2 separate regions of the Homo sapiens genome follow, and region 1 is linked to region 2. Evidence: fine-mapped expression QTL. A gene starts in region 2. The other region holds a variant in brackets. All regions are shown on one strand. Distances are from middle to middle.

Evidence for each region. PIP is the estimated chance that this variant, and not a neighbour inherited with it, causes the effect. A credible set is the group of variants that fine-mapping cannot tell apart.
Region 1: its variant is the best candidate, but not a certain one, in a credible set for the expression of COA4 in whole blood (TOPMed, PIP 0.73).

What each region holds. Positions count from the first base shown.
Region 1 is chr11:73,706,354-73,710,756 of GRCh38, forward strand. RAB6A (RAB6A, member RAS oncogene family) reads right to left here. Exons shown (of 8, transcript NM_198896.2): 6 at 1,067-1,160. Among named protein-coding and RNA genes, the nearest start is that of RAB6A, 53 kb to the right of the region's middle. The variant GAAGT/G (reference allele first, on the strand shown) is at 2,138.
Region 2 is chr11:73,874,689-73,879,091 of GRCh38, forward strand. COA4 (cytochrome c oxidase assembly factor 4 homolog) reads right to left here and starts at 2,158. Exons shown (of 2, transcript NM_016565.3): 1 at 2,069-2,158. It overlaps PAAF1 (proteasomal ATPase associated factor 1), which reads left to right and starts at 2,311. Exons shown (of 12, transcript NM_025155.3): 1 at 2,311-2,380; 2 at 4,091-4,131. The coding sequence starts at 2,334. RefSeq lists enhancers at 2,409-2,458, 2,479-2,548.

The DNA.
Region 1 (4,403 bases), 170 kb before region 2:
AAATACAAGACATTAGCCAGGCGTGATGCAGGCACCTGTAGTCCCAGCTACTCGGGAGGCTGAGGTAGGAGAATGGCGTGAACCTGGGAGGTGAAGCTTGCAGTGAGCCGAGATCGCGCCACTGCACTCCAGCCTGGGCGACAGAGCAAGACTCCATCTCAAAAAAAAAAAAAAATTATTGGTCCATAAATCTTATAAATCTGGGACCACTACCCTACATGATATACAGCCTTGAAGAGTTAAGCATGTGAGTCTCTGGCTGACCTATCTTGTAGAAAATGGCTTGATAATGTGACATCTCCCTATATTTTCCTGCCCTCCCCCAAAAAGACCTGTTGTAAACACTGTTCAAACACCAGCATTTTATTAAGGATAAAGTAACCAGAATTTACTTTTACAACAAGAAGTGGAACACCATTACTGACAGTAAATACTTGCTTTCATTTATCTCAGTCTTGGCATCAAACTCTGAAATAAAATTTACCGGCCGGGCATGGTGGCTCACACCTGTCCCAGCACTTTGGGAGGCCAAGGCAGGCGGATCACCTGAGGTCAGGAGTTTGAGACCAGCCTGACCAACATGAAAAAAACCCCATCTCTACTAAAAATACAAAATTAGCTGGGCATGGTGGCGCATGCCAGTAATCCCAGCTACCCGAGAGGCTGAGGCAGGAGAGCTGCTTGAACCCAGGAGGTGGAGGTTGCAGTGAGCCGAGATCACGCCATTGCATTCAAGCCTCGGCAACAAGAGCGAAACTCCATCTCAAAAAAGAAAAAAAAAAAAAAAAAGAAAAGAAAATTTACCTTTAAAGCAATGTAGTAGGAATGTAGTGACAATATGGTAGATTTACCACTTTGCAGTAGTTCTATCCACGATCTGAAGTTTGCAAGTCTTTTCTCTTTTTCCAAAAACTATGCCACATTTATATTTTTCACTGTTTGAAAATATACTGCTAGTTTGTAAGGCCTGCTCTTGCCAGGTGGAAGGAAACCTATACACCAGAGAATAGAATACTCACACAATTATTTCATATTTTTTCAATTTGGTAACCTCAACTCAACTTACCTGCTTTACATTGTATCCAGCTTTTGCACTAGTTTCAATAAACATAACATTCAGCTCTTTGGCTTTCCTCTCTCCCTCCTCAATTGACACTTGCCTGTAAAGAAACAAACAAACTTCTTACTTTTGAGACATGAGGCAGTATTATAAAGATTATAAAGAAAGCTCTGAAAATAACTTTCCTTGATATAAGGACTGGTTATACAGGTCACATTAGTTTAAAAATTCATTAATCTGCCACACTCTTGAAATTTGTGTGTTTCTGTGTGTGTATACTTAACATTTTTTTAAAGACTTTTTTTTGTTACTGATTTGCTTTCACTTGACTGGGCTCATCCTGTAATTTTTTTACTTTTACAAACTTAATAGCTTGAGGATGCTCGAGCCCAGGAATGTTGAGGCTGCAGCAGGCCATTATTAGGCCACCACATCACTGCACTCCAGTCTGGGCAACAGAACCTGTCTCAAAAAAAGAAAAAGCTAAAAACAAAACAAAACAAAAAACGCTTAATAGCTTGCCTCTTTCCCTTAATATCAGACCACAGGCTTTTAGCCTTAAAATTCAAATCTTTGTGTAAAACAATTTTTATGGCTAAACAATTTCTGTCAATTTGCTCCTATAATTTATATAACCATTCCCAAACTATTAGAATGCAAGTTGCTTTCCAATTTTACACTACTATGAAAATTGTTGCCCTAAATATCTGTGCTTAATATTTTGTGCACTGCAAATCATTTCCTTAGGTTAGATTTTGTGGTTTTCTTTTTTTTGAGACAGTTTTGCTCTTGTCACCCAGGCTGGAGTGCAATGGCGCGATCTCAGCTCACTGCAACCTCCAACACCTGGGTTCAAGCGATTCTCCTGCCTCAGCCTCCTGAGCAGCTGGGATTATAGGCGCCCACCACCACACCTGAATAATTTTTGTATTTTTAGTAGAGACAGAGTTTCACCATGTTGGCCAGGCTGGTCTCAAACTCCTGACCTCAGGTGATCCACCCATCTCAGCCTACCAAAGTGCTGGGATTAGAGGCGTGAGCCACCGTGCCCAGCCGATTTTGTGGATTTCTGTAAGT[GAAGT/G]AAGTGAGTCAAAGACATGTATGGTAAAGCCTCTAGATACAAAATATTAATACTTTAATATTACCTTTACAGGGTATTTTGTGATGCATTACAATTAGCACTATGTCTCAAATTGTGAGATCTCAAGTGCAAGATTATGTCATTTATATTGGTATTCCTAATGCTTAAGCTGGCAGATAAGTATTCCATAAATATACAAATGTTCTAATTAGCTAGATTTAAACTATCAGCTGACAAACCCTGCTTCCTACAACACAGAAAATGGGCAATGGAAGAGAATTTCCACAAGCTTCCATTTACTTGCAAGTGTGCCCTTATATCCTACCTCTAGTCCTATTACTATGAAAGAGTTGTCCTTATTCTCAAAACTTACATCTATGTATTAGATCCCACTCCCTTCTTGCCTACAAGAAATTATTATTCTAGAATTCTCCACTCCCTAAAAACAAGAACATTCTCTTACATAACACTCCAACTGTTAAGATTTTACATTTGCTTGTGTTATCTTCTCATTCTCTCTGTGTATATAAATTTTCTGAAACACTTTTAAAAAACTGTTTGAGAGTAAACCGCCAATCTGCAGACCTTTAGCCCTAAATACTTCAGCAGTGTGAATTTCCTAAAAACAAGGACATTCTCTTATATAACCACAGTACAATTATTAAATCTGGGAATTAACATCAACATCATACCATCATTGAATCTATAGGTTTTATTCTTGTCAATTATCCCAATAATGTCCTTTACTGCCAGTTATTCCAATGTCCTTTATAGCAAATTAAATACTTCTTTAGAAAGAAACTTTCTCAATTATTTGGTTATCCTGAGGTACTTAGAACAAGGAGGGAGGGAGTGACGGAGGGAGGGAGAGGAAAGGAGGATAAATGCTCGAGTCAGTCTCTGGCATCTTCCAAAGGGGACCAATGAGTTTTCTCCTTAAGTATATTATTATTATTATTATTATTATTACTATTATTATTATGACTCGTGGATTTAAACATGTTTTATAGTAATTACTGATTTTCAAGTTTTCCTACAGTTTGACCAGTAGAGCTTCTTTGAGTTGGCTCTCCTGAATCTGACATAACCTCAATGGTCTTTAATAACTTCTTTGATTTATGGTATGACATGTTCCAGCCCCACTGTTTACATTTTCTGGCCCAGATGCCTAATTTGTCACTTCTTCAAGTAGCCCTGGTTCCTTTGGAAAGAAACCGTATTTACATGTGGTAATGTGGGCTCATTCCTCCTGGTTTAAATCTTTTCAGTAGACAGAGCTAGAAAATATTAAAAATTTTCAAATGCTAAAAAATGTAATGAATTCATGCATATATATACATATATACACATATATATACATATATACATATATACACATATACATACATATATACATATATATACACACACATATATACATATATATACACATATATATACATACACACACACACACATATATATATATTTTTTTTTTTTTTTGAGACGGAGTCTTGCTCTGTCGCCCAGACTGGAGTGAAGTGGCACGATCTCGGCTCACTGCAAGCTCCACCTCCCAGGTTCACGCCATTCTCCCGCCTCAACCTCCGGAGTAGCTGGGATTACAGGCTCCCGCCACCACACCCGGCTAATTTTTTGTGTTTTTTTTTTTTTAGCAGAGACGGGGTTTCACCGTGTTAGCCAGGATGGTCTCGATCTCCGGACCTCGTGATCCACCCGCCTTGGCCTCCCAAAGTGCTGGGATTACAGGCGTGAGCCACCGCGCCCGGCCCCCATGCTTATATTTTTTATATTTAACTTTATTAATCTTATATCTGTATTTCCATCTCCCGTGTCCAAAATGCCAGTTCTCAATCATTAAGCAAAGTATTCATTTATTTTATGCAGAATACAGACAATCATTTTGAAATAACAATATCCAACATCATCACCAACATGTTTACTAAAAACAGTTAAGATCTAGCCGGGTGTGGTGGCTCACACCTGTAATCCCAGCACTTTGGGAGGCCAAGGCGGGTGGATCATTTGAGGTCAGAGTTCAAGACCAGCCTGGCCAACATGATAAAACCCCATCTCTACTAAAAATATGAAAATTAGCTGGGTGTGGCGGTGCATCCCTGTAGTCCCAGCTACTCAGGAGGCTGAAGCAGGAGAATCACTTAAACCCAGGAAGTGGGGGTTGCAGTGAGCCGAGGTTGTGCTATTGCACTCCAGCCTGGGCAACAGAGAGAGACTCAGTCTTGAAAAAAAAAAAGTTAATTT
Region 2 (4,403 bases):
GTTTAAAAAGTGAAAGAGGCTGGGTGCAGTGGCTCACACATGTAATCCCAGCAATTTGGGAGCCCGAGGCAGATGGATCATAAGGTCAGAAGTTCAAGACCAGCCTGGCCGGGATGATGAAACCCCGTCTCTACTAAAAATACAAAAATTAGGCGGGCGTGATGGCAGGCACCTGTAATCCCAGCTACTCGGGAGGCTCAGGCAGGAGAATCGCTTTAACCCAAGGGGCGGAGGTTGTAGTGAGCCAAAGATCGTGCCACTGCACTCCAGCCTGGGTGACAGAGTGAGACTCCATCTCCAAAACAAACAAACAAACAAAGTGAAAGAGTGCCCAAATATGGGTAGGTTTTGACACATGGGAAGGATGGAAAGAGTTCACTGTGGCTGTAGCATACAGTATGCAGAAACCTGGCCTCTGGGTCTATAAGGTGAGATGGCTTTGTAAACTATACAAAAATGTGAGGTGTATTTATTTGCCCAAACTGTCTTGCCCGTCTGCATCAGAACACTCAGCAGAAAGCAGCATACAGAAGGAACTTAAGGTTTGAAGAGAAATGACTTCAGCCTTTGCAAAAATTTCACCATGATGGGCTGTAAAGCAACTAGGACTCCTTATTGCCTTAACTGTGTCTCTCATTCACTCAACAAATGATTAAGTACCTATCATGTACCAGGCACTATGCTAGTGCTGAGGATTCAAGACTGTCTAAGTCAGTTAAGTTCCTGGCTTCATGGAGTTTACAACCTAGACAAGGAAACAGGGCAGTTTACTACACAGTGTACAGATAGCAAAGACTGGGACCACAGTGGAGGGATGCCTAATCCAGACAAGGGCAGGAATAGGCAGGGAAGGCTTCCTAGAGGAAGTGATTTCCAAGCTGAAACTTGACAGATGGAACAGAAGTTAGCCAGAGATGGGAAAACTATTTTTGGTCAATGGAAGAGCAGGTGGTTGAGATAGAATCTGACACATGAGAGCAAAAAAAAAAAAAAGTTCAGTGATGGGAGAATACAGTGTGAGAATAAGACAATATTAAACTGGCGATATAAGTAAGTGATCATCACAAGGCTTTGTAGGACATAGTAGGGAGTTTAAGACTTTTTATTCTGAGGGCAATGGGGAATCACAAGAGGGAGTTAGGCACTTTACACAACTCATTTGCCTTGGAGGCGGTATAACTTAAGCAAGAGGGAGAAAATGGGCTTTGAAACAGACTTGGACCTAGCTTTGTCACTGCCTCATTTGGTGCCCTTGGACACATCATTTAATAACCTCTCTGGAAGCACAGAGATGAAGCCGGGTGCCATGGCTCACGCCTGTAATCCCAACACTGGGAGGCTGAGGCGGGAGGATGGTTTGCGCCCAGCCTGGGCAACACTGTGAGCCGTGATCACGCCACTGCATTCCAGCCTGGGTTACAGCGGGAGACCCTGTCTCAAAAAAAAAAAAAAAGAAAAAAAAAAAGGTAAGGTTTGTAAGGAGGCTGGTATGTCTAAAGAGTTCAATAAATGATAGTTTTCTCTTCCTAAATACACTGTTAACTCTTTAAATAGGGCCAGGAGCAAATAATTTAGAGAAAGAACAGTGGAATAGAAAGTGCCTTGATCCTAAACCAAGAGATCCGTGTTCAAATCCCAGCACTACGCCTTACTATGTAATCTTTTTCATTTTAGTTTTCCCATTAATAATATTTAATTCGCACAATTAGAATGAAGATTAATATAACGAATGAAAAGCGCTTGGGCTACTATAGGACTCAGTAAATGCTGCTGTACTCTCCTCTCACCACCTTTTGGCTTCAGTCTCCTCTGGAGTAAAATGACGACGACCCCTGCTCAGAGATCAGGGTAGGCTAGATGGTTGGCAGCTGGATCGTGGAGGCTGGCCTAAACAAGGAAGTCATGGAAAGGATCTTAAAGCAGAAAAATGCTGGCAGCCACGAGGCCTGAGGCGCCTCAGGCGTATCGAGGACTTTGAACTTTGAGGACGCATGCGCGCGCGCGGCCGCTGATCGCAGCCCCGTTGTGCCCGCAACGCCTCCTGAAGAACGCGGTACGCGATGCTCACCGAACAGGTGGGAGAAGAGGGCCCGAACGCACGCTCCTACGCGGCGGCTTGGGTTTCGCAGGCGGTTGGGGATCCTCTGTACATCCTTTCAGGAACCAGCCCCTCGTGGGGAGCGTGCACACGGAAGGGGCGGGGAATGTGAAAAAGTCACGTTTTCATTGGTGGCCTCTTGGTGTTGAGCCCACCTCTGTCCTCGCCGCACGCTTCTCGGGGACTCACTTCCGGGAAGGGGCGGAAGAGGTGGGCTGGTGGAGGCGGGGTCGAGATGGCGGCGCCTTTGAGGATTCAGAGCGACTGGGCGCAAGCCCTCAGGTGAATCCAGGCCCAGAACAGAGTCAGAGGAGGCGGGTAGTGGATGTTGCTTTGCGTCAAGGAGAGCCATGCCTGGTCCAGGATATCAATAGGGGTTACTTCGTCAATTGTCGAGGGATATGGAGGGAACAGGGTCCGGAAAAAGAAGTATCAAACCCGTATGGTCATTCTCTGAAAAGCTATCCCTAGGCCAAGGGAGCACATGAGCTGTGTGATCCCCGCGTCAGAACTAGTATCAGTGAGTTGGAGAAAGACAGGGATACTGGGAGGCAGGAAGGCTTTTGGCCAAGCAGTCATTTAGCAAATATTGATTAGTCGTCAGTTACTTCCAGAAGTCTCTGTACTCACCACCACTTTGTGTATGTGATGGAACCTTTGTATTCTCCTAGGCCCCTAATGCTATATTAGGCATACTGGACGATACTATTAAGGAAACTAATACTGTGTCCAGGCCCCATACTGGATGCTTGGTGGAGCTCAGATGTATACTCTAAATATAAGTGATGGTTCCTGCTCTTCAAGAAGCTGACATCCAGGCCAGGCGCAGTGGCTCATGCCTGTAATCCCAGCACTTTGGAAAACTGAGATTGGTGGATCAGTTGAGGTCAGAAGTTCGAGACCAGCCTGACCAACATGGTGAAACTCCGTCTCTACTAAAAATACAGAAATTAGTCGGGCTTGGTGGTGGGCGCCTATAATCCCAGCTACTCGGGAGGCTGAGGCAGGAGAATCGGTTGAACCCAGGAGGTGGAGGTTGCAGTGAGCCGAGATTGCACCACTGCACTCCAGCCTGGGTGACAGAGCGATACTCATCTCAAAAAAGAAGAAAAGCTGACGTCTTAATTAGGAATACACAGCAAACTATTCATTCATCTAACATTTATTGATCTTATACTATTCCAGTTATTTCTCTAGGCTTCAGGATGAATATAGCAGTGCTATATTTGGCAACTGCTACTACTAATAAGGGTTTTTCAAATTGAAACAATGGTGAAGATGAATGAAACATAGCCTTCTGCATTTAAGAAATTTACACCTTACTAAATTTATACCTTACTTAATTTAGGTGGGCTAAAATACAGACTAGTTGCTAGTACACAGAATGTGATAAGTAATAAAGAACAATAACATGAAGTGCCACTAGCTACCTATGAGAAAATACAGCACCAGAATCAGAAGGCTTAATTTGCCCAAGATCATGCATCTCGTCAAATGATAGAGGGTTGCTGTCAACCTAGATCTTTCTGTCTTAAATGCATAGACCCTTTCCATTATACCCTAAAAGTGCTAGGGTGAAGAGATCAGGATTTGGATGATTGGGCAGGTGCTAAAATAATAAAAGGAATCTTGTTTGGTTATTGTGAGGGTTAATGATTGTGTATGGAAAGTGCTTAGCACAGGGCTTGGTTTACAATAATCCTGATAAATAATTAAATAACCTTGATTTTTCAAAGTGAGCTCACTGTTGATGGATGAGCATTAATTTAACCAACAGATATCTATTCATTAAATAGTTAATCCACAAATATTTCTTGAACAAATAAAGTTTGTCTGTCTTAGAATGATCTATACTCGATGAGAGGTTGGACTATCTCATGTCTAAGTACTATGACCAAGCTGGAGGTTACATGACCTTCTTTCTTCCCTTGTAACTATGGGATCCTATTCAACTTTGGGTAAGCCTAATTAGGCTTTTGTCTTTCTTCGTAGGAAGGATGAAGGGGAGGCCTGGCTGAGCTGTCATCCCCCAGGTAATACCCATGAATTATATATGCTGTGACTTTAAAGGAGAAGGATTAATACCCTTAAAAGAAAGCTTCCTACTTTCTCCTGGCCCAGCCTCCTTACATAATAGTCTGCAAACATGCTTGACCAGTCTGTACTGTATGGCCAACACCCCAACTCCTCCATTCCAAGGGAAGGCCTTCAGATTGATTTTCCATTTGAAAGCCACAGACTTATTCATGGAGACATTGTTGATGCATCTTAATTAGTCACTTACCCTGTGCTATTGTATTCTAAG